Homo sapiens: one gene and its partners. The protein of the gene in region 6 purifies or fractionates together with the protein of the main gene of each other region. This does not show direct contact. Each region holds a gene or a part of one and is shown on either strand. Other genes may lie near its edges.

The links.
Region 1: the proteins of TMEM9B (region 6) and PDZD8 purify together in Homo sapiens (affinity purification with mass spectrometry; 2 studies listed by BioGRID and IntAct, with this or other methods). This does not show direct contact.
Region 2: the proteins of TMEM9B (region 6) and ATRN purify together in Homo sapiens (co-immunoprecipitation; 2 studies listed by BioGRID and IntAct, with this or other methods). This does not show direct contact.
Region 3: the proteins of TMEM9B (region 6) and DNM1 purify together in Homo sapiens (affinity purification with mass spectrometry; 2 studies listed by BioGRID and IntAct, with this or other methods). This does not show direct contact.
Region 4: the proteins of TMEM9B (region 6) and VANGL2 purify together in Homo sapiens (affinity purification with mass spectrometry; 2 studies listed by BioGRID and IntAct, with this or other methods). This does not show direct contact.
Region 5: the proteins of TMEM9B (region 6) and ARFGEF1 purify together in Homo sapiens (co-immunoprecipitation; 2 studies listed by BioGRID and IntAct, with this or other methods). This does not show direct contact.
Region 7: the proteins of TMEM9B (region 6) and TUBGCP4 purify together in Homo sapiens (co-immunoprecipitation; 2 studies listed by BioGRID and IntAct, with this or other methods). This does not show direct contact.

The regions. Positions count from the first base shown.
Region 1 is NC_000010.11:117,284,941-117,288,440, reverse strand, and holds part of PDZD8 (PDZ domain-containing protein 8), read left to right. Parts: intron 1-2,641; coding exon of another isoform or gene 2,642-2,670; exon of another isoform or gene 2,671-2,747; intron 2,748-2,969; coding exon 2,970-3,500. UniProt on the Homo sapiens protein: Molecular tethering protein that connects endoplasmic reticulum and mitochondria membranes. PDZD8-dependent endoplasmic reticulum-mitochondria membrane tethering is essential for endoplasmic reticulum-mitochondria Ca(2+) transfer.
Region 2 is NC_000020.11:3,561,518-3,565,017, reverse strand, and holds part of ATRN (attractin isoform 1 preproprotein), read right to left. Parts: intron 2,743-3,500; coding exon 2,559-2,742; intron 1,810-2,558; coding exon 1,655-1,809; intron 1-1,654. UniProt on the Homo sapiens protein: Involved in the initial immune cell clustering during inflammatory response and may regulate chemotactic activity of chemokines. May play a role in melanocortin signaling pathways that regulate energy homeostasis and hair color.
Region 3 is NC_000009.12:128,220,379-128,223,878, reverse strand, and holds part of DNM1 (dynamin-1), read right to left. Parts: intron 1,683-3,500; coding exon 1,540-1,682; intron 1,419-1,539; coding exon 1,283-1,418; intron 1,087-1,282; coding exon 1,019-1,086; intron 1-1,018. UniProt on the Homo sapiens protein: Catalyzes the hydrolysis of GTP and utilizes this energy to mediate vesicle scission and participates in many forms of endocytosis, such as clathrin-mediated endocytosis or synaptic vesicle endocytosis as well as rapid endocytosis (RE).
Region 4 is NC_000001.11:160,403,564-160,407,063, forward strand, and holds part of VANGL2 (vang-like protein 2), read left to right. Parts: intron 1-340; exon of another isoform or gene 341-829; intron 830-2,564; exon of another isoform or gene 2,565-2,762; intron 2,763-3,500. UniProt on the Homo sapiens protein: Involved in the control of early morphogenesis and patterning of both axial midline structures and the development of neural plate. Plays a role in the regulation of planar cell polarity, particularly in the orientation of stereociliary bundles in the cochlea.
Region 5 is NC_000008.11:67,333,782-67,337,281, reverse strand, and holds part of ARFGEF1 (brefeldin A-inhibited guanine nucleotide-exchange protein 1), read left to right. Parts: intron 1-3,500. UniProt on the Homo sapiens protein: Promotes guanine-nucleotide exchange on ARF1 and ARF3. Promotes the activation of ARF1/ARF3 through replacement of GDP with GTP. Involved in vesicular trafficking.
Region 6 is NC_000011.10:8,954,443-8,957,942, forward strand, and holds part of TMEM9B (transmembrane protein 9B isoform a precursor), read right to left. Parts: intron 1,857-3,500; coding exon 1,748-1,856; intron 1-1,747. UniProt on the Homo sapiens protein: Enhances production of pro-inflammatory cytokines induced by TNF, IL1B, and TLR ligands. Has a role in TNF activation of both the NF-kappaB and MAPK pathways.
Region 7 is NC_000015.10:43,381,101-43,384,600, reverse strand, and holds part of TUBGCP4 (gamma-tubulin complex component 4), read right to left. Parts: intron 1,299-3,500; coding exon 1,097-1,298; intron 1-1,096. UniProt on the Homo sapiens protein: Component of the gamma-tubulin ring complex (gTuRC) which mediates microtubule nucleation.

The DNA of each region.
Region 1 (3,500 bases), on a different chromosome or scaffold from region 6:
AACAGAAAAGCTTTTGTATGTCTCTTTTTTTGTTTTTTTGTTTGTTTGTTTTTTTCTGTACATAAATATATGCCTTTCCCAATTTTTGTTTAGGAAACAAAAATTTCTAAACTATGCATTTTTGTAATAGTCTTTATTTCTTTTAGCATGTTGTAAACTTTCCCCATGTCAACAGATATTTTTCAAAACATTTTTATATCGCTTTGATTCATTTATATGGGTATATAATTGATGATAGTTGAAATAAGATTGGCAAAATATTATATTTGAAGCTCAAAATGGAATTCATTTTACTGTTTCCTCAGCTTTTGAGTGTGTTTGAAATATTCCAAAAGAAAAATCCAGACTTGAATGGTGTATTCCTGAGAGAGAGTTGCAATGGCCATCTCCACAAAACACCTGATGACTGAGGAATAGATGAGACGAGGGCAGATTTTTAGTCATAAAAAATGAGTTCAGATTGAGTTGAAGTTTTTGCCTACTGTAGATCATTAGATGGACTAATTTTTCATTTATGCATATGTCAAACTATAATTTTGCTGAGACATAGTATGGTTAGAAGGACGTAGTAGAACTTAAAGCTAGATAAATAATGAAGCACCATATTAGAAAGCTCTGAATTTCCATGTGATAAGTTTGTAGGCTAAAGGGGCAAATGCTTTAGGAAAATTTCGTAGCAATATGTTTGGTGTTTAAAGTAGGGAAGGTCTGAGTGAGAGATTGCAGTTAAAAGCTGTTTATTACTAAAGTGAAGGCCAGTTATCAGGAGGATCTGAACAGGGAAGGAAAATGGGCTGAAATCACAAGTTTGAGTTGACAGCTGAATGTTTCTAGGGAGTCAAATATCCCTAGGATTCAAATTGAGTTAACTGGGAGTGGCAAGTTGATTGATAGTAGTGAGGACAGAGAGACAGTCAAAGAAAGGTTTTAGCTCTGCTGAATATTTAGTCCCAAAGGAACATCCAGGTGGTGATGTCCAGTAGTTGGGAATGTAGAACTAAAGTGAAGAAGAAGGGAAACCAAAGAAAAAGTTGATAGTTTTTGAGACTACTGGAGTGGCTGTAATTTACCAGGGAGAGAGCAAAAAAGGGTGAGAGAACTAGTGGCAAACTTTGGTAACAGTTGCATATAAGGTGCAGGTGGTATAGGTGGAGAAAAAGAAGCTAGAGGAGAGGTGATCAGAACCAATTGTGTAAAGTGTTGTGGAAACTAAGAAAAAGAAAAATTTTAAAGAAAAGGAAGAAAAAGTTTAAGGATAATTGATAGAGCAAAGTCAGGAAGGAGACAGGAGGATTGGATCCAAAGTAAGTATACAGATAGAGGGATATTTTCTCCTCTGAAGTAAGATAATACTAAAAATGATGGTAGGGAGAAAAGGTAGCTTCATATTGATCTTTTTGGCAAATAAGGTGATAGCATGCACAGAGTAAAAGAGAGTAGGGAGAGTAGACTTTAGGGAAACAGGAAAGATTTACAGCTGATGTTTGAGAGACTTAGTTGTTTACAGACTGATCAAAAGAATGCTAAGCAGCCCTGAACACCTTGCCAAAGATGGATGGCTAACTTGATGCTAGATCCAAGCGGCAAGCTCAAGAGCAGGAAAGGGCAATAGTGGGGCTAGTAAAGCTGGGGATCAAAAAACATGAGGACGAGAAAATAAAATATTGGTAAGAACATCGTTGTAATCTTGAGACACAGGGTTGGATAGAAGAGCAAGTGGTATCAGGAGACCAACAGGACCATGAGAAGAAAAGAGGAATGATTGGGCCGGGAAGTTGCCTAAAAGTAGTGAGCAGACAGGATTGTAAGAGGTGAAAAATAGGAGCTTGTGATCAGAGACTAATTGAAAATGAAAGATCTTTGATGTGGACAAGTTCCAAGTGATGACCGAGTCTAAAGCCTGATCTTCCCAGACAGCTGAAGTAAGAGAGGACACAGGTTGAGGAAACCTGAAGTCAAGTTATGAGAAAGGGGTGGTGTTACTTAGATTTATTTAGGATGGCCCTAAGATCTTTGGAAAACAAAGAGCCTTCTCATTCTTTCTCTAAGTTCTACATAAAGGGATAGCTTGGGCAAGTGCTGTTTTAGAGAGTGTGGGAAGAGTGACAGGAAACAAGTAGCACCTTTAAGTGCTAACACACCTAGAATATCTATAGAAGCATACACTAGAAGCTACTAAGGTCAGGGAAGGGACAGTATGGCTGGGAGACAGAGGTGGAAAGAATATTTTTTACTGTACATCTTTTTATACCTTTATACCTTTCAAATTTTAAACTACGTGTAACAATTAAAAAATAAGAAAAATAAAAACAACGTAGATATTACAGATGCAGATAGTAACCAGCTTGTTTAACTTTAAAGCAGTTTATCCCTTACTTGTTCTTTCTGGTTTTGAAAAAGATGAATGTGATGGGTACGGTTGATAAAAAGAATCTGTAAAAGTACGTTATTCATAGTATAGTATTTTGCTACATTATTTTCAAGCACTGCTCTCTTAATTTGAATCTTTCATCATATGTCTTGTAATCCCTGGAGTATTTTAGAATTTCCTTCAGTGGAATCACAGCTTTCCCTCACTCTAAGTCTGATTTAGCCATTAATAGAATCCTTTAAATAGATCTCTCTCTGTTCACTTCTTCAGTTCAAACTGAGAGATGTCATCTAACCTAAGAAGAGATAGAAAGCAATTAGGAGTTAGCATCCTGGCACTCTTTTTGGGATCCTGTGTCATCATCTGGTTTGAAAAGGTAAACATCTCCAGGATATCAGCACATTCAGGGTTTGAGAATTAGCACACTGATTCATCCAAAAGCCAAATAAAATATTGTTGAGATTTTCCTATTATTCTTCTATTAGTTAAATAACCAGAGGTAATGGCAATTATATATATTTAATTAAATACATTTAACAAATGTAGTAATTTCTATTGCAATAATTTACATGTTTTCCCTTTTAAAATCTTAAACCAGGTGTGAAAATCACATCAACACTGCAAGTGTTGAAGCTTATCAAGCAGGCTGGTGACCGAGTCCTGGTGTACTATGAAAGGCCTGTTGGCCAGAGTAATCAAGGTGCAGTGCTGCAAGATAACTTTGGCCAGTTGGAAGAAAACTTTTTGTCAAGCTCATGCCAATCGGGTTATGAAGAGGAAGCTGCCGGGTTGACAGTAGATACTGAAAGTAGAGAGCTGGATTCTGAATTTGAAGACTTGGCAAGTGATGTCAGAGCACAAAATGAGTTCAAAGATGAGGCACAATCATTAAGTCATAGTCCCAAACGTGTTCCAACAACACTTTCTATTAAACCCCTTGGAGCTATATCACCAGTTTTAAACCGTAAATTAGCTGTAGGAAGTCACCCACTACCACCGAAAATTCAGTCCAAAGATGGAAATAAACCTCCACCCCTAAAAACTTCTGAGATAACAGACCCAGCACAAGTGTCAAAACCAACCCAAGGATCTGCTTTCAAACCACCTGTGCCACCACGACCACAAGCGA
Region 2 (3,500 bases), on a different chromosome or scaffold from region 6:
TCTCAGCTCACTGCAAGCTCCTCCTCCCAGGTTCACGCCATTCTCCTGCCTCATCCTCCCAAGTAGCTGGGCCTATAGGCGCCTGCCACCATGCCTGGCTAATTTTTTTTATTTTTAGTAGAGATGGGGTTTCACCGTGTTAGCCAGGATAGTCTCAATCTCCTGACCTCGTGATCTGCCCACCTGGGCCTCCCAAAGTGCTGGGATTACAGGCATGAACCACCACGCCCAGCCAAGAATGTTTTTTAAAGCAAGCAAATTTTACATTCTACAAAGCTTATGTCAGCAAAACATGGGTTTCATAATTATTTTCCACTCTTTTCTATATTGATTTGCTCAAATTTAGTAGCTAAAATGGAAAAATAAAGGTGGAAAATGAAATTTCAAGAAATTTAAATGTCACCTAATTTTTACAAAGTCCTTTCCTAGATCCCATAGATTGATTAATTTTCCCTTGTTGTGACCCATACTAGCAACTTCTCTTCTGGATCTAATACCAACTGGTGCTGCTATACCATGCCAACCTCACACTCAGTGTCTCACTCTTTGAGCCCTTAAATATGTGCCGGTCTTTTCCACCTCTGTGTCTCTGCAAACTGGGTTTCCTCTGCCTGGAGAGTGCTGCCTAACTTCACCTACCTGACACCTAGTGTCCCCAAGGACCCAGAGAGGATGGCCCCTCCTTAAGAAAGTGTTCCCTGTTTATCACTCTACCCTCCATGACTTAAAGGGTACTCAGAGGTGCTCTCATACATTCTTTTCAGCCAGAAACACCCTGAAGTGCAATTCTATTGTCTGCTCATTTCTCTACCTCTTCTACTTTGAGGCTAAGGGCTTTAAGTTATTCATCTGATCTCCTCAATGTACAAACTGAGTGGCTGGCACACAAATGTCTGTTAAAAACGAATGTCTGACTTGGAATAGTCAAAATCACAGAGACAGACTGTAGAATAGTGGTTGCCAGGCATTGTGGGGAGGAAGAAATGGGACATTATTGTTTAATGGGTATACAGCTTCAGTCTTACAAGATGAAGACAGTTCTGAAGATGGATGGCGGTGATGGATTTATAACATTATGAATGTGTTTAGTATCACTAAACTAGACATTTAAATATAGTTAGGATGGTAAATTTTATGTGTATTTTACCACAATCAAAAAAATAATAATTTGTTTAAAATGAACATCTGACAATTTTTATGAAAGAGATCATCCGGTATGCATTTGCTTTGCATGAACAAATACTGCCCTCTTCTGGTCTGGTATATTGCCACACCAAGACCATGTGAGAAACCAGTTTTCTAGGGAATGAGATAAAGCTAATACGTGAACCAATTTTAACACAATGCTGGTGGTTGCAACTATGTAACACTACCAGGTAGGCATAACATGACAAAGGAGAGACTAGACACCTCAACTCAGCCTTAAAAATTAGCATTCAAGCAATTAACAGGAGTGATTTCAAAAAGAATTTAATGTAGAAATAATTTTTACCAGATGTGTAACATTAGTCAAATGAATATAAAAAATACCATTTGGACCTCTTTCAAATGGCCTGATCATTTTGAACTGGCAATATTTTCAGTCTCCTTTTAAATGCTGCTTATAGTATAGGCAAAAAGATGCCTGAAGAGAAAATGGTTTTGGGAAACTTACCAATGTCATAGGCCATGAAATCTGAAGAGAAGCATTTGGCGCCATGGCTCATAGATGTGTCATTGTGTGTGTTTCCTCCAAACACCAGCATGGTTCCACTCACTATCACAGCTGTGTGCAAGTAACGGAAAAATCGGCTGTCCTTAAGAATGGTCCTTTTGAGTTTATTTAGAAATAATAAATACAAGGTTAGTTTTTAAAGAATATTTATGTATCTGCTAATGCAAGCACAACCACTTTATTAACCTCAGACCCAAATGTACAAATCCTTCCAGAGTTTTCCCTACATAAAAGTAAGTTTTTCAACAATAAATACAGATAATTTTAAAGACCTGTAAGAGTTTTGGCAAAATATATTAAGAACCTTAAACTCTTCATACCCCGTAGCTATATAATTCCAGTTTCTGGGCAGAAATCATGTGAAATATTGACAGAAGCTTAATGCATAATGGTTTCTTAATGACATAAAAACTAGAAAGAAACCAAAACTTTCACCTGCATAGTCTCAGCATACCCACAAAATGGAGTATTGCACAGCTACTAAAAATGATTATTTTTATGACAGAATATAAAACAGTACCCATAGCAAGGTATCAAACATGTGAGGAAAAAGAGGAGAAACCATCGCTTTATAATTACATTATTTCGTAACTCAAATTTGCTTTACATTTGTTAAAAAACTCTAAGTATTTTCTAACCAACCTGCTACAGAATTACAGAATAACGTAACAAAATAAATACTAGCTACTTTATTACCCTCTGTTTATTTCCCAATTTCTCTATATATAATGCCGAACAGAATTATCTGCCAGGCATGAAAACAAAAAGATAGCACAATATTTTCTCCACAATTGCCTCTACAGAATTTACACCTTAAAGTGAAAGCTCAAGAAAAAGTACCCACCACATCTGGGTATCCACATCATATCGGTAGAGATCATCTGCAAGCCGGTACTTATTGGCACTGAAAGCCTTGTAGCCACCATGAACGTATAGGGCCCTGGTCCTATGGTCGTAAACACTGCTATGGCCGTAACCCCCTTGCACAAGGGCACCCTGGGTGTGTAATATACTCCATGTGTTCTTATCTGGAAAGGAAAGACAGTTAAAGGCAAGCATGGCAGGCTCCTCCTCTCTACTACTGAAAATGTCCAAAGAGCTTAGGGCATGAGAATGGATTTCAGGAGACCTGATACATATACTTTTTTATCTTTATATTTTAAAGAAAGCCACCTAAAACTTATAACAAAGCCATGTGGCCCAATTCCAGTCTGTTCTATGTTCTGATGTTCTAATATGCCATGTAGGAAAAGAATTAACTAAATTTAAAACACTCAGGGCCAGGCGAAGTGGCTTACATGTGTAATCCCAGCACTTTGGGAGGCTAAGGTGGGAGGATCACTTGAGGCCTGCTATGTTGGCCAGCCTGGGCAACATAGCAAGATCCCATCTCTACTAAAATTAAAAAATTAGCCAGGAGTGGTGGCACGCACCTGTAGTCCCAGCTACTAGGGAGGCTAAGGTGGGAGGATCACTTGAGGACAGGGCATCAAGGCTGCAGTGAGCTATGATTGTGCCACTGCACTCCAGCCTGTGTGAGAGAACAAGAGCCTGTCTCAATAAATAAAATGTTCACTCAAATGAACATTTAATTCCCTACAACCTTTGGTGACCAATATACAGATATATTTTATAGGCCTACTTTCACAAAATGTTAATTATACCTGGTATTCCTACTGCACAACAACAGATACAATGAAATTTAACCAAGGGAAATATTTCATATTAAGGGTAAATCATACTCCACTAAACCAATCTCTAAAGGGCTGGGCAAATATTTTTTTTC
Region 3 (3,500 bases), on a different chromosome or scaffold from region 6:
GACAGGGTTTCACCGTGTTAGCCAGGATGGTCTCGATCTCCTGACCTCATGATCCGCCTGCCTCGGCCTTCCAAAGTGCTGGGATTACAGGCGTGAGCCACCGCGCCCGGCCCTAATGAGGCTCTTTGGGGCAAGACAAGGTGGTTGAGTATCTGATATGTAAGTCCTGCTTCCTCGTAAGGGTCTGTGCATATAGGAAGTTCTATGGCCAGAAATGGCTTGAAAATTGCCAAACGTGGTTCTCCATAAGAGCCTTTCCAGGAATAGAGTGTTTTGTTTTAAGACTAGGAAAGAGATCTTTTTTCTGTGAATTGGCCAGTGCAGTTATCAGGAAGTAAATTCCATGCCAAATCTTGGAAATGAACCTGCATGAGAGCAAGGGGACACTGGGTCTTGTTCACTGCTTGGCATAGGGTAGGTGCTTTAAATTTTCCGGCCCAGTGGATTTGTTGGATGAACACAGCATAGATCTGGGTCCCTGAAGGGGATCTAAGCTTTTAAGGAACAGATTCCACCTCCCAATCCTGTTTCCTACTCCACGGGTTGCCTAGAAGGAGGGCGGTGGGGTGGAATGGGACTGACTCTGGGCTACTGTGAATACAGGAGGGTGTGGAGGATTGCAAAGTCCCCGGCCGTCATAAAAGGACACAGCCTCATACTTAGATGCTCCACCCCAGGCCCTCGTAGTGGTTTGGACATCTTTGTCCGGTTACCTGGGTGGCACTGGGGGAGCTATCTCACCCTGGGGATGGGCCCAGCCCCAGAGGGTGTTTCCCCGGCCACCTGCGCCCTGGGCTGTGCCCAGTTGGCCCAGCAAGTTGCAGTAGGCGGGGTGGCCCGGGTCCACCTCCCCAAGCTGGAGCCTGTCATGCAGGGAGCCAGAAAGTTGGGGTCGAGAGGACTGGGGAACAGAGCTTTCAGTCCTTCCTGAGGGAGGCCCACTTCATCACTCCCTGTGCCTCTGTCCCAGACCCCCTACTTCTGGGGTTCAGCCACCCTCCCAGGCCCCAATACGTGCCTAATGCCATGGATATTCTTGATAGCATAGCTGATCTCCCTTCGGAGTTCCTTCTCATCAAACTCCATCTGTGTAGAAAAGCAGAGAAAAGCCTGGTCAGGGCCTGTCCTACTACCTGGGAGGTCAAGACAGGGCCCACCCCACACCTAGGGCTGGGCATCAGGGCCTGTGGGGTGGGGGCCAGCAAAAACACACGCAGAGAGAGTCCTGAGTGAGGGTGGGGGGAGTCCTGAGCCATCCTGTCCCCAGGGCTGCCTGACCTACCTTGACCAGCTCGAAAGGGAAGCGCTCGTGGAAGATTCGGTTAATGCGGGCTCCCCCTGACAGTTCGTAGGTGTCGATCTGATCTCCTGAGCCCTCAATGCGCTTCTCAAAGTCTACGGCGAACTGCTGGACCATCCTGGTGGGAGAGTGGTGTGGCCTGAGGGGGCAGGAGCAGCCCAGCAAAGGGAACCCTGGGAGAGCCCCACGCTGAGAGGCTGGGGGCGGGGATTCAGTGATAGGAGCTGGGGGAGCCTCACTGCAGCAGGGCCTTGGTCTTGCGAGCTGGGTCATCAGGGCGGAAGTTCTTGTATTCCTCCACCTCCTTCTCAATGGACAGTAGCTGGCTCTGCAGCTTGTTCCGCAGCCCCGGCAGTGTGTCCCGGATGTGGTTCGTCAGTTGCTGGGGGTAAGGGTGAGGAAAGGGTTGAGGACAGATGGTCACAGGGCCAGGAAGGGACTTGGATGCCAGGGGACTGTGTGAACGTGGTGAGGTGGAGAGCTATGGAGGGCAGCCCTGCCACTGCTGCCCGGGCCACTAGCAAGAAAACTGGTTCATAGAAGGAGCTTGCAGAGATGTATTAGTTGAATTAATGAGTGCATAATTTTCAATAAAGCCAGAAATCTGGATTTGTATTTGGAATTTCCTGATTTTTGGCCAATTTAATCTTTTTATTTTTATTTATTATTATTATTTTTTTGAGACGGAGTTTCACTCGTCACCCAGGCTGGAGTGCAATGGCGTGATCTCAGCTCACTGCAACCTGCGATCTCTGCCTCCCAGTTTCAAGCAATTCTCCTGCCTCAGCCTCCCAAGTAACTGGGACTACAGGCGTGCACCACCATGCCCAGCTAATTTTTTGTATTTTTAGTACAGGTTTTCGCCTTGTTGGCCAGGCTGGTGTCGAACTTTTGGCCTCAAGTGATCCACCCGCCTCAGCCTCCCAAAGTGGTGGGATTACAGGCATGAACCACCATACCATCCCAATTTAATATTTTTAGACGTGCGTCTGAGGCAGGGGTGGCCAGAGGGCTGCCCCTTGGACCCTCTGGGTTTAAAGCCTCCTTTAAGGTCATTCTCAAGTTCTAGCACTCATGCTCACTAGGTGCCCCCACACAGTATCTCCCTGAACCTTTACAACAATCCTATGAAACAGGTCTGATCACCATTGTCTCCATTTTACAGATGCAGAAATAGAGGCTCAGAGGCCAGGCACGATTATGGCTCATGCCTGTTATCCCAGCACTTTGGGAGGCCAAGGCGGGCAGATCACCTGATGTCAGGAGTACGAGACCAGCCTGGCTAACATGGTGAAACCCCGTCTCTACTAAAAATACAAAAATTAGCCAGGCGTGGTGGTGTGTGCCTGTAATCCCAGCTACCTGGGAGGCTGAGGTAGGAGAATCCCTTGAATCCAGGAGGCAGAGGTTGCAGTGAGCTGAGATCGCACCATTGCACTCCAGCCTGGGTGACAAGAGCAAAACTCCATCTAAGAGAGAAAGAAAGAAAGAGAGAAAGAGAGAAAGAGAGAAAGAAAGAGAGAAAGAGAGAAAGAAAGAGAGAAAGAAAGAAAGAGAAAGAAAGGAAGGAAGGAAGGAAGGAAGGGAAAGAAAGAAAGAAAGAGAAAGAAAGAAAGAAGAAAGGAAAGAAAGAAAGAAAAGAAAAGAAAGAAAGAAAGAAAGAAAGAAAGAAAGAAAGAAAGAAAGAAAGAAAACAAATAAAGAAAAAAGAAATAGAGGCTCAGAGAGCCAGAGAGAGTGTCTCAGAGGGGGAGTGACAAAACTGGGATTGGAAACCAGGTCTTGCCTACACAGACAGACAGTCAGACAGACACACACACACACACACACACACACGCGCGCGCGCGCGCACTTCAGTTCTGGATGCCCCATTCCAGATGGAGAAAAGTCCTGGGGAAGCCCCTGGGATTCCCTGTCAAGGTCTTCAGCCGAGTATACTTGAATCCTGGCCCCCAAACCCAAGCTCTTCCCCATGACACCCTCCACATAGGTCTTGGCCTTCTCTGTGTTGGGGACTTCCAGGGCTTCCCTGGCAGGTCCCAGACAGGGAAAGGTCAGTGAAGCTTTGCTGCTACCTAGCTGTGGGGCTGTGGGCAAGTTGCTTTGCTTTTCTGAGGCTCAGTTTGTCTATCTGCACTACGGAGAGGCTAACCTCTGCTGTTCACTCTCAGAACACACTTAATTTATCCTGTTTTCATGC
Region 4 (3,500 bases), on a different chromosome or scaffold from region 6:
CATCTGGTTTCCAGGTCCTTCCAGTTAATGGGGAGGGAACTTGACTAACAGAAGCTTTGGCAGGGAAAAGGAAGAGATCTGATCCCCTCTGAGTTTTAGGGAACTCCAGTCTTCTCCTTCCCTCAAGTGTTCATCACATTGTGAGGCCAGAGAAAGGAGTCAGAGTTGGTTGGAATTAGTACTTAACAGTGGTGTGATCTGGGCAAGTAATAAACCCCATTCCCCAGCCTCTTAGGTGTCTTAAGGCACATCCTCCAAGCCTAGACTGAGCCCTTCCACAAGGAATCCCTGGTCCCCCACCAAGTGGCTTTCTTCCCTGGTTTGCTTTTAAATTCTGGCTTTGCCACTGTCTAATTCCGTGACATCAGACAAAACTGGTAACTTTTTGAAGCCTCACCTGTAAAATGGAATTAATAATAGGCCCTACTTCTTGGGGTTATGAGGATTAAATGAAATAATAGAGAAAGCACGTTGCACAGTTCCTGGCACATAGTAAATGTTAGCTGGATGGTTCGGATTCTGAGGGATAATCATCATTAAGGGAGAGAGGTCGGAGTCGGGATAGGAGAACTAGGCTTTGGTTCTGATCTTCCTTTGGCCGACCACATTAGGCACTCTCTCCTATCTGCCAGGCACAGTGTGAAGCACAGGGGATGGAGGGGCAAATAAGATGTTTTCCCAGGGGAGACATGTGAAAACATGTTGATTCACTGCAGCCCAGTGAGTGCTGTGTGGAGGTGTGTTCAGGAGGCCACTGGAGCATAGAGGAAGAGTGCTTGGCCCTGGGGTGAGGTGCCAGGGAAGGTTCCTGCAGGAGATGCCCTGTTAGCTGGATTTTAAAAAAATTAAGGTGAAATTCACATAATAGGAAATAAACCATTTTAAAGTGAACAGTGGCATTTAGTACATTCACAGTGCTGTGCAACAACCACCTCTGTCTAGTCCCCAAACATTTGCACCATCCCGAAACAAAACCCATACCCATTACACAATTGTCGCCATTTCCCCTTACCCCAGCCCCTGGCAACCACCAATTTGCATCCTGTCTCTATGGATGTACCTATTCTGGATATTTCATACAAATGGAATGATAGAATGCATGACCTTTTGAATCTGGCTTCCTTCGCTTAACATAATGTTTTCCAGGTTAATCCACACGGTAGCATGTAGCATGTATTAGTACTTCATTCCCTTTTATAGCTGAATATTATTCCCTTGTGTGGACAGACTTTACCTGGTTAAAGGATGAGTTAGGCCAACAGGAAGGGTCTTAGGATGGCACTCCTGGTGGAGGCTGAGCGTGAGCAAGAAGGCACACAGGGTATTTGGTAGTCCTGTACCTTGCAGTATGAAGTGGGGATTTGGCCTCAGTTTCTCTGTCTATAAAACAAAGTTAATCATCCCTTTCCTGCTTGTGCTATGGGCTTGGTAGAGTTGGAGGTATTAGGGGAGAAGAGAGGCTAGGGTATTATTGCCTCTTCTCAGGGTCTGGGCTGGGGATGGGACTTTTAAAACTTGCTCTTTCCTCCTCTTTCCTGGGCAGCTCACTCCTGTATGCATCAACCCTCATCCTTGTGGGGAGCCATCTCCCTGTTCACTTGACATCAGCTTCCCCTCTCTCTGAATTGACCTGAAATTTTCCCTTTTACCTTCCACAGGTGGGTAACCCTGTGCATGATGAGATTTTGGCAGCAGAGGTGAAGGAAAGGCCTGGGACTAAGTCCTACTCACATTCTACCCTACGGCGGCCCTCCCCTTCTTTATCCTGTCTCTTGGTGATGTGGCTTGGGCAGCCCTCTCTCACCTTCTCTGTTGTAGTCTGGATAGAACTGTGGTGGGCCAGGGAGAATGTTTGCATTCCTTGTCTCTACCCTGCTTGGTACAGAGTAGGAGGCAGAGGCCCTTTATGGTGGGGCCCTTTGGAAATGAGGTTTTGCTGTGCTTTGTCGGATGCCCCTGGCAAGATTGGTAATTATAGACATAACAGCTGGGAACTGGTTTGAGAGAAGCAGGCTTGGAATCAGCAGACCTGAGGATATCCTGGTAATCAGGGTGGGGCAGGGAGAGGGGAGAGTGGGATGAAGCTGGGGGCTGGGTAGGGTGGGAGGCTTGGGGCCTCCTTCCCCTGCCGCTCCACACACAGCTGGGCTTAGAGCCTAGAGGAGAGTGGGAGGTGATTGGAACCCAGGTCTGCTTTACTGTAAGTGAGGAAGGAGGAAGGAGAGGAGGAAAGGTGGGGGATCCAAGGGCCTCTGAAGAAAGAAGCAGAGAGGAGGAAGAGGCATGTTGGTTGCTCTCTCAGGCAGTACCTGGATGTGGTCTAATTTAGAACAGGGACAACCCTGCACCTAGAGGTGGTTCCATCTTATTTTGGGGTGTTTCTCCTTACAGTGAGGTTATGGGAGCAGGAAGTGGAGGGGATTCGCTGTGGACCCACTAAAGGAGAAAAGGTGGGAACTAACATTTTTTTAAGCATCTATTGTGTGCCAGAATCTGTAATATTCTGCATACATTATTTTGCTGAAAACTCTTAACCTTCTGAAGTAGGCACTATTATTGCCATTTTATAGATAAGGAAACTGAAGTTTGGAAAAGGGGAGCGACTCACCTGAGATTACATAGCTCGTAAAAGGCTGTGCCAGGTCTGACTTCAGTGCTCTTCCTTTTCCCAAAGTCTCTTCACCTTCCCCTACTGTCATTCCAGTTCGGTCTGATTGCTCATTATTGCCTTTAATCTTGCACTTGAGTAATTCCCCTGTTTTCTGAAAAGCAAACATGAGTCCAGTGTCAGCCTGAGGAGTAGAGAAGCCTACCCTTGAGGGTGGGAGTCAGAGAACGATCTCATCTCCAGGAGGAGCACCTTGGTGTCATAAGCCTGGGGCGGGGCCAGCATCTGGGCAGAAACCTCTCCTGGGGTGGGTCTCTTTCTCCTTGCTGGGCCATGATTTTGGATGGGGGTTGGGGTAAAGGAGTGACTGTAGGCTCCGGCCACCATGGCCCGTGGGGTCTTGTTTGTGAATGGGAGGAGCCTGGTCCTTATTGTCTGTAGGGTTTTCTCACAGCCCCTAACAATGTCCTTCAGACTCCTGTTTTCACCAGAGTGTTCTTGGCTCCCTCAGCCTGGTCAGAGAGAGAGGGTGTGTTTGTTTGTGGGTCTAGGGAGGGGGTTCTGGTTTTTTTTTTTTTGAAACCGTTTCGCTCGTTGACTAGGCTGGAGTGCAATGGCGCGATCTTGGCTCACTACAACCTCTGCCTCCCTGGTTCGAGTGATTCTCCTGCCTCAGCCTCCCGAATAGCTGGGATTACAGGCATGCACCACCATGCCTGGCTAATTTTGCATTTTTTGGAGAGGCGGGGTTTCACCATGTTGGTCAGGCTGGTCTGGAACTCCTGACCTCAGGTGATCTACCTGCCTCGGCCTCCCTAAGTGCTGGGATCACAGGCGTGAGCCACCACGCCCGGCCCAGGGGGTCTGGTTTTTTAGGGTAAGTAGGGTTTAG
Region 5 (3,500 bases), on a different chromosome or scaffold from region 6:
AGACAGTAAAACATTTTCATCCTGCCTTTTATATGTATTTTAGAATGTTTTAATGATAGAATTTTCAGATGATATAATAGGATATTTTCTACTGAGAATAACACAAAATAATTTCAATTTGTTTTGTCTGTTTTTTTTTTTTTTTTTTTTTTTGAGACGGCGTCACGCTCTGTCACACAGGCTGGAGTGCAGTGGCGCGATCCTGGCTCACTGCAAGCTCCGCCTCCCGAGTTCACGCCATTCTCCTGCCTCAGCCTCTCGAGTAGCTAATCTCGTGTAGCGCTACCGCGCCCGGCTGATTTTTTTTGTATTTTTATTAGAGATGGGGTTTCACCGTGTTAGCCAGGATGGTCTCGATCTCCTGACCTTGTGATCCTCCTGCCTTGGCCTCCCAAGGTGCTGGGATTACAGGCGTGAGCCACCGCGCCCGGCCTGCCTTGTCAGGTTTTTTGCAGGGAGGTTTTTTTATCAAAGAAATGAGCCTTTCACTTGTCTGGTTCTTTTCCTGGAATAGGAACTTTGTGGATGTAGTGAAAGATCTCAAGGTGAAGTTGAGATCCTCAACTTAGAGCCTTTAGGTGGGCCCTAAATCCAGTGAATGGTGTCCTTTTAAGGAAGAGGAAGGGACACAGTCACATACAAAGGAAAAAGTCCATGTGAAAATGGAGACGAGATCAGTTACTGCTGCCACATGCTATGGAATGCCAGAAGCCACCAGAAGTAGGAAGAGGCAAGGAGGGATTCTTCCCTTTGGATGTAGCATAGCTCTGCTGTGACCTTGATTTTAGATTTTGGGCCACCAGAACTATGAGAGGAAATTTCTGTTGTTTTAAGCCACCAAATTTATGGTAATTTATTAAGGCAGCCTTAGGAAATGAATGCAAGTTCCCTTTTATCCTAACTTTTCAGACCCATTTTGATTTCTTTATTCAAGTTTCCACTTACAGAGTCTACTGTACATATGTTTACACAATCAGATCCTGTCTTTGGCTCATCTCTGATTGTTTCATGAATCTAGAAAGCAGTTATTCTGAGGCTTTAGTGTGTTATAAGTAGAGGCTCTTGAAAAGCTTCTTAAAAGGTCTGGGCTCAAGTATTTAAGAATATTTAAAAAGTTTTGTGTTCTGCTTTTGATATTTTGTTTTGCTTAGACTTAGACTTGATGTAACTAAATTTGTTTATATAACCTATGTTATCTTTTCATTCAGAAAAGTCTTTGAAAATCTTTAAAATGGCCGGGCGCGGTGGCTCACGCCTGTAATCCCAGCACTTCGGGAGGCCGAGGCAGGTGGATCATGAGGTCAGGCGTTCGAGACCAGCCTGGCCAGCATAGTGAAACTCCGTCTCTACTAAAAATACAAAAAGTTAGCCGGGCGTGGTGGCAGTGGGCGCCTGTAATCCCAGCTATTTAGGAGGCTGAGGCAGGAGAATCGCTTGAACCTGGAAGGCGGAGGTTGCAGTGAGCCAAGATTGTGCTACTGCACTCCAGCCCGAGAGACAGTGCGAGAGTCCGTCTCAAAAAAAAAAAAAGAAAATCTTTAAAATATTTCATATTACCACTGGCGTGTCTTTAGGAAACGCCATGTGAGGCTATTAATTTTTCTTAACAAAAATGTGTACATTGAGACTTCATTTAATCAGCTGTTTAACAATCCTCATCTGTCAGAACTTTGCTAAGAAATAATAAAAATATAAGCAGTCAAAGTACATATTTTGAAGGCCAAGCACTTTATATAGAAGAGAATCTCTATGGCTTTTACTCAGTCTGTATGCTTTTATAATTCCAGTAAGTTTGGTAATTTGATATTTTTTATAAACGAATCCTTCAAATCATTTTCAAAAGTGTAACTACAACAATAAAATTTACTGTGATACGGGGCCCGGCGTGGTGGCTGGCGCCTGTGATCCCAGCACTTTGGGAGGCTGAGGCGGGCAGATCATGAGGTGAGGAGATCGAGACCATCCTGGCTAACACAGTGAAACCCCGTCTCTACTAAAAATACAAAAAATTAGCCAGTCGTAGTGGCGGGCGCCTGTAGTCCTAGCTACTTGGGAGGCTGAGGCAGGAGAATGGTGTGAGCCCGGGAGGCGGAGCTTGCAGTGAGCCGAGATTGCGCCACTGCACTCCAGCCTGGGTGACAGAGTGAGACTCTGTCTCAAAAAAAAAAAAAAAAAAAAAATTTACCGTGATACTCTTAGCTGAAGATAAATAACTACTGTTAACTTTTTGAAAAACAACTTTCTGATAAATGATTTACATACTATAGTATTTACTTTTTTTGAGTGTAATGATTTTTGGTAAATTTACTGAATTATGCAGCCATCAGCATAAATCCAGTTTTAGAACATTTCTATTACCTCAATAAAATCTGTAGTGCCCTTGTTGTCATCCCTAGCTTCTGGCATTCACTAATCTATTTTCTGTCTTTAGAGTTGCCTTTTCTGGACATTTCATGAAATGCAGTTATACACAGGTGGTCGTTAGTGTCTGGTTTCTTTCAGTATGTTTTTGAGGTTCATTCATGAAGTTTGTATCCACACTTCATTTCCTTTTATTGATGAATAGCATTCCATTGTTTAGATATCCTATATTTTGTTTATCCATTTACCAGTTGATGGATATTTGGGTTGAATGAATAATACTGCCATGAATATTTGTGTATAAGTCTTTGTGTGGACGTAAACTGTTATTTGTCCTAGGTAGACAAACTGGGAAGGGAATTGGTGGGCCACTTGATAAATTTATGTTTAACTTTTTAAGAAACTGCTAAATTCTTTTCCAGCCTACATACCCACCAGCAGTGTATGAGGCTTCCCGTTTCTTCAAATTCTCACCAATATTTGTTACTGCCTTTTTATTTTTAGCCATCCTAGTTGTTATGATGAAGTGTTACTTCATTGAAACACTGTTAACTTTTTGAAGTACAGATTAAATATCCTTTATCAGAAATGCTTGGGATCAGAAATGTTTTCAATTTTGTTTTTTTTTTTTTTTTTGGACTTTGGAATATTTGCATATACATAATGAAATATCTTGGGGATGAGATTGAAGTCTAAACACAAAATTTACTAATGTTTCACATCCACCTTATACACAATCCAAAGGTAATTTTATGCACTATTCTTTTTTTTTTTTTTTTTTTTTGAGACGGAGTTTAGCTATTGTTGCTCAGGCTGGAGTGCAGTGGTGCGATCTCAGCTCACTGTAACTTCCGCTTCCCAGGTTCAAGTGATTCTCCTGTCTCAGCCTCCCAAGTAGCTGGGATTACAGGCATGCGCCACCATGCTCAGCTAATTTTGTATTTTTAGTAGAGATGGGGTTTTGCCATGTTGGCCAGGCTGGTTTCAAACTCTGACCTCAGGTGATCCGCTGACCTTGGCCTCCCAAAGTGCTGGGATTACAGGCATGAGCCACTGCACCTGGTCTTATGCACTGTTGTTAATTTTGTGCATGAAACAAAATTTTGACTGTGTTTTGACTGTGACCCATCACGTGAGAT
Region 6 (3,500 bases):
CACACCTGGCTAATTTTTATATTTTTAGTAGAGATGGGGTTTCACCACGTTGGACAGGCTGGTCTCGAACTCCTGACCTCAAGTGATCCACCCGCCTCGGACTTCCAAAGTGCTGGGATTATAGATGTGAGCCACCATGCCTGGCCTGAAACTGGATTTTAAAATGTTTTAAATCTACTAAAATTTATAGAATTGTATACTTATAGTGAGTGACTTTTAGGGTACATAAGTTGTATATTTTTTACAAATCTGTTAAATAATAGTACAGTGAGGATTTATCTAAAGTTCAGCACCCTGCTGGAGCAAGAGCTCTTCCACAGGGTCAATCACAGCAGAAATGTTTGTGACTATTATAACTAACCACCCCACATTCCCCACAGGGCCTTTTGGGGGGAAAGGAATGGGAAGTGCCATGTAAAAAAAAATTAGGCCAGGCGCGGTGGCTCACACCTGCAATCCCAGCACTTTGGGAGGCCAAGATGGGTGGACCACGAGGTCAGGAGTTCGAGACCAGCCTGACCAACATGGTGAAATCCTGTCTCTACTAAAAATACAAAAATTAGCTGGGCGTGGTGGTGCATGCCTGTAATCCCAGCTACTCAGGAGGCTGAGGCAGGAGAATCGCTTGGACCCAGGAGGCGGAGGTTGCAGTGAGCCAAGATTACACCACTGCACTCCAGCCTGGGCAATAGAGCAAGACTCCATCTCAAAAAAAAAAAAAAATTGGAAGAAAAACCATTAGCCACTATAATAAAGTAACTGAACTCATTAGAAATACAAATGGTGATGAGAGTGATCTACATCCCATTTACTACAGCAATACTCCACAACCTTTTTGGCACCAGGGACGGGACCAGTTTCATGGAAGACAATTTTTTCATGGACCAGGGGTGGTAGGGGATGGTTTGGGTATGATTCTAGCACATTACATTTATTGTGCACTTTATTTCTATTATTATTACATTATAATATATAATGAAATAATTATACAGTTCACCATAACATAGAATCAGTGGGAGCCCTGAGCTTGTTTTCCTGCAACTAGACGGTCCCATATGGGGGTGATGGGAGTCAGTGACAGATCATCAGGCATTAGATTCTCATTCTCATAAGGAGCATGCAGCCTAGATCCCTCACATGTGCAGTCCACAATAGAGTTCATGCTCCTATGAGAATCTAATGCTGCTGCTCATCTGACAGGAGGTGGAGCTCAGGTGGTAATGCGAATGATGGGGAGCAGCTGTAAATAAGATGAAGCTTTGCTCACTTGCCCACTGCTCACCTCCTGCTGAGTGGCCCAGTTCCTAACAGACCACAGACTGGGCTGTGGCCTGGGGGCTGGGGACCACTGTCCTACAGGAAATGAAGAGGGGAAATCTTAAAATCCAGAAGTAATAGTTCTAGAATAATTACTATATATTTAATTTTTTCAAAGGGCTGGAAAGGCAAGGAGAGGAGGGCTTATAAATGCTGCTCTCTCAGCCTCTGGCACACATGGCCTACACAGAAGCTGGGATATCTTTCTGGAATATGCTAATTACACATAGGGCATTTTTGTGCCATTTCACATATCTATCTAACATACCCTAACTAATCCACAAACCATGTCAGTGAGGCAGGCAGAACAGGCCCATTATTCCTTTTGGGGTAGGGGTCCAAATTTTTCTGTCTTGTCTAGAAACCATCCAGAAGCAGAAAAGACGTAGACAGACAGACAGACAGGTAGATAGAGGGATATATATTTTACCTTGATTGTGACAGAGCTTCTTTCTTCATATTTGCATTCACAGCGTAGACAGTATGCTTCTACATCAGGCCCCCGCACAGGCATGGGCTCCACAACATGAAGGCAATCACTGAAAAAACAAAGATAAAATGCTGCTTAAGCCCAGCTAGCTCTTCTGCTTGCTCTGACCAAAAGTTTCCTGAAATCTAGAATAATCACTAAACTTACCCAATGAAAGAGCATAAAAAACAAATAATCAATAAGATAAAGTAAAATAATTTCTGCTCTCAATATTAGCATTTTGGTAAGTTTTAACCATTTAAGAAGCCACAAAGTCACACATATAGTAGTGTCTATTTTCAAAGCTGCTACTGTTAACAGTTACAAAAACGCACACAAAAAATCCCAAATGGGATGAAAAACTACTTAACAAATCAAGTCACCTTTAGACTTGTTCAGTTACTAAGGAAAACTACTTAAAATGGTTTAAAGTGATATGGGGCACTGTTCAAATATAAGATTATCTCTTTTGTGAATTAACATCATTCTTTTTTGTTGTTGTTTTTTAAGAGACAAGGTCTTGCTCTGTCACATGGGCTGTAGTGGAGTGGTGCCATCATAGCTCACTGCAGCCTCAGACTCCTGGGCTCAAGTGATCCTCCTGCCTCAACCTCCAGAGCAGCTATGATTACAGGAGCCTGCCACCATGCCTGGCTAATTTTTAGATTTGTTGTAGAGATCAGGTCTTGGTTTGTTGACCTAACTTGTCTTGAATACCTGGCCTCAAGTGATCCTCCTATCTTGGCCTCCTAAAGTGCCGGGATTACAGGTGTGAGCCACCGTGCCCAGCCAACATCATTCTTAACTGCCAGTGTGGTGTATGAATGACTAACCACGTTTAACAGCGTGGTAAATTCTGAAACTCTGAAAATTGAACCCTCAAAGCCACACACAGGAAGAAACAATCACTTTTCTTAATGAGCAAATCTGAAAAAGCAAGGAGAAATAGAATAACTAAAATATTTTAAAACAAAAACTGGTTATTCCAAAGAACTAAATAAAAACTAACAAAGGGATGAGTGTTTTTGTTGAATGTTACTTATTTCCCCAACCCCATTTTCAAGGCTAATTATTTATGGTTTGTGTAAACACAGTGCTATCAGATTTTTCCTAGAAATCTGTCAATTCTAAGCAATAACTAAATTATTATTCTCCTCAACTATTAAGAGTCTATGACTCTGATCACCTTCAGCAAAATTAGGGAAAGCTTTCCTGTCCTCCTGCCAGCTGTTGGACAATTTTCTTTCCTTTTGGCATCTCTTCGTTAGGCATTCCTGGCTGCCTCAAGCACTCTACTACACCATCCTATCTTATCTTACCCATTCTCTTGGGGACACCCAATACTCTATAGAGTGATTCCTTCTCTTTCCCCACCAAAATGTACTTTTTGGAAACAAAGTTACAGCTTGGTGGGAGGAATAAGTTCTAGTGTTCTATATCCCTGTAGGATGACTATAGTCAACAATAATATATATTATAGTTTCAAATAGCTAGAAGGAGGATTTTGAATATTTTCAACACAAAGAAATGATAAATGTCTGAGATGCTAAATATTCTGATCAAATCACTATATCTTATATGAATTGAAACATCACTATGTATCCCATAAATACGTACAGTTATTGTGTCAATTAAAAATTAATTTCAGCCGGGCGCAGTGGCTCATGCCTGTAATCCCAGCACTTTGGGAGGCCGAGGCGGGAAGATCACCTGA
Region 7 (3,500 bases), on a different chromosome or scaffold from region 6:
TCTCTTGTAACATTTTACTTCAGCCTTTATTTGATCATTTCAATTGAATTACTACTGTTTCCCCAAATGAACCATGTCCTTAATGGCCCCTGTACCTTTACACATATCATTCCTTCTGCCTGGATGTCTCTTGATGGCTCCTCCCAAACTCTTTGCAATTTAGACATACCTTCCACTGAAAAGCCTTCCCTAGTCACTCCAAGACCCTATCCCATGACCATGTTCCAAGAATACCCATATTTAGTCTTTTCAGAGCCCTTAGCACACTGTAATGTAACTGTTTACTTTTCTATATCTCTTCCCCTAAACTATGAGCTCCTTAGGGACAGACACTACTACTTTTTATTTGTAGCACCTAGAACAATGCCTAGCACATAACAGGCATTCAATGAAATATTGCCACAGGATAAATGAATGAATGGATGGATGGATGAATGGATGAATATGGACAATGTAGAACTTTGAGGAGTCTAATCAAAACACCAAACTGGCCAGGCACGGTGGCTCATGCCTGTAATCCCAACACTTACAGGCCGAGGCGGGTGGATCACCTGAGGTCAGGCGTTCGAGACCAGCCTGGCCAACATGACAAAACCCTGTCTCTACTAAAAATATGAAAATAAAAAATATGAAAATTAGCTAGGCATGGTGGCACATGCCTGGTTCCAGGTACTTGGGAGGCTAAGGCAGGAGAATTGCTTGAACCTGGGAGGCAGTGGCTGCAGTGAGCCAAGATTGCGCCATCGCACTCCAGCCTGGGCGATGGGTGAGAATCTGTCTTTAAAAAAAAAAACAAAACTCCAAACTGTATTTAAAATCTAAAATGTAGCTAGCTGCTCCATTAGAGTAGCTACATAAGTAAGACTTATAATCTCTCAAATGCATATATTGGGAAAGAGGAAACAAAAAGAATATCACAAACATATTTTCTATTTTATAGTCTCACACTAGTTAAGATAAAGCCGAATGTTTACATCGAAAGGATTGATGGAAGGTGCTCAGCTATGAGCTAAGAAGGGATCACCAGAAGATCATTTGTGTGCATGCTTTTCTGACTCCTGGCAGGAGAGTGCTAGGCTACTTTTTGGGCTCTCACCAAGTCCTGCAGTTCTCTCAGTTGTTTTCCTGTCAGTCCCCCAATGCCCAGATCCTCCTCGTCCTCTTCTGGCTGGGCACTGACATTACCAGAAGATGGCCCCTGTTTGATAAAGAATTCTTCATGCTGGTCCAAGAGGAGTCCATGGAGCATCCAGGCTGAGAGCTGTTTATACATGACCCCATGACAAACGGCCAGGATTCTGGGCAGAGTAGAAAGTAAGAGGCTCAGAAGTCATGCTTTAAACTGTTACAGGATAAACAGAGGCCTGAGAATTTGATGAGTCATAACAGAAATAACCAATTAAGTTAAAAATAATTGTGCTATTTTAATTTAAATGTGGGTGAACTAACTCACTGAATTTCCATATTTGCAGCCTACACAATGAAATCTAAAATGTTCAGTATATGTGCTGATATTATTTTAGGGAAGACATTTTCTTCCCTTCTTTTATGTAATTTTCAAAACTGATGGGTCCTAAATATGTACAACTGTTTTATAGCAATAAAAAATAAAAATAATAAAAAATTTTAAAAATCGACTTAATGGAGTCTCTTTTTGGCTAACACAGTATTAAATTTGTTTTATTTTTGTTGGAATCACTTAGGGAGAGAATATTCAATACGTGAGTGCCAGGTATACATGAAAAACCATTATCTAGCAAAATTCAGAAACTAAAACAAAATGCAGAATGGTTGTTGGGGAATAGGATATTCAGATGGTCTCAAAGGATCACCCACCAGATAGCATATTAATTAAAAAGGGGAAAATGTACCTCTATAATGGAGCAGGACGTGATGAAAACACCTAAGCCAAGTGATCCAACTTCATAACATCCGTGATGGGATAAAGTTACTTTCTGTACCTTCTAATATGATGTAATGGGAAATAATATCACCTACATAGTATTCTTGCCAAAAAATGTTTAATCTGAATCTAATCATAGGGAAACAATAAATCCAGATTGTGAAACATTATACAGGACAGCTGGTCAGGACTCTTAAAATGTCAGCGTCATCCAAAACACCAAGAACAACAAAAGGCAAGGGGGACGGTTCTAAATTAAAGGAGACTAAAAAGACATGAGAACAAAATGTAGTATGTGAACACTGATCGGATCCTGGATTGCAAAAAAAGAACAGCTATGAAGGAATTCTGAGGGACAACTAGAAAAATTTGGATATAGTATTACTGAATTAATGTTAACTTTCTTGGGTGTAATATGGAATTGATGTTCTATAAGAGAATCCCTTTTTCTTTTATTTTTCTTTTTTTCTTTTTTCTTTTTTTTTTGAGACAGGGTCTCACTCTGTTGCCCAGGCTGGAGTGCTGTAGCACGATCATGGCTCACTGCAGTTTCGACCTCCTGGACTCAAGCCACCCTCCCACCTCAGCCTCCTAAGTAGCTGGGCCCACAGGCGCACACAGCATGCCTACTTTTTTTGTATTTGTAGAGACGGGGTCTCACTATGTTGCCTGGGCTGGTCTCCTAGGCTCAAGCTATCCACCCACCTTGGCCTCTCAAAGTGCTAGGAATACAGGTGTGTGCCACCATGCCCAGCCAAGAATGCCTTTTTTCTAAAGTGATACAAGCTGAAGTATTTAAGTGTTAGGGTATCTGTGACTACTTTCAAATGACTCTGCAAAAAAATTTGTGCATTTCACATATACGTATAGAAGGAGAAAAAGAGAAATCAAACGTGGCAAATGTTAACAAATGGTGAAACTAAAGGATACACTAGCGTTTGGTTGGTTTTTTTTGTTTTTTGTTTTGAGACAGGGTCTCATTCTGTCATCCAGGCTGGATTACAGTGGCGAGATCTCAGCTCACTGCAGCATCAACCTCCTGGGCTAAAGCAATCCTTCTGCCTCAGCTTCCCGTAGCTGGGACTACAGGCAGGCACCACACCTGGCTAATTTTTTTATTTTTGGTACAGACAGGGTCTCGCTATGTTGCCCAGGCTGGTCTCGAACTCCTGGGCTCAAGCGATCCCTCTGCCTCAGCCTTCCAAAGTGCTGGGATTACAAGCGTGAGCCACCGAGCCCAGCCTACAAGTGTTTTATTATACGTTTCTTTCAACTTTTTTGTAGGTTTAAAATTTTTCAAAATAAAAGGTTGGGAGAAAAAGAAATTACAAGAACTTGACTGTGTTATTTAACTGAATGGAATCTCTCTTTAAAAAGATCAAATGTGAAGCTATTTACATTTATGCATTTCTGAGTATGTGGTCTGTAAAGTTTGGTCCCTGCAAACACAGAACAAACATGTATATATAGTATCATCTACATTAGATTTTATATTCTATACACAAAAGTATAATAGAGAATTAAGTCCCTAAGGAATGTTCTGGAGGATTTACTCATGCAGTGGTTAGAGTGGAGATTAAGAGTTGTGAGTGGCCGG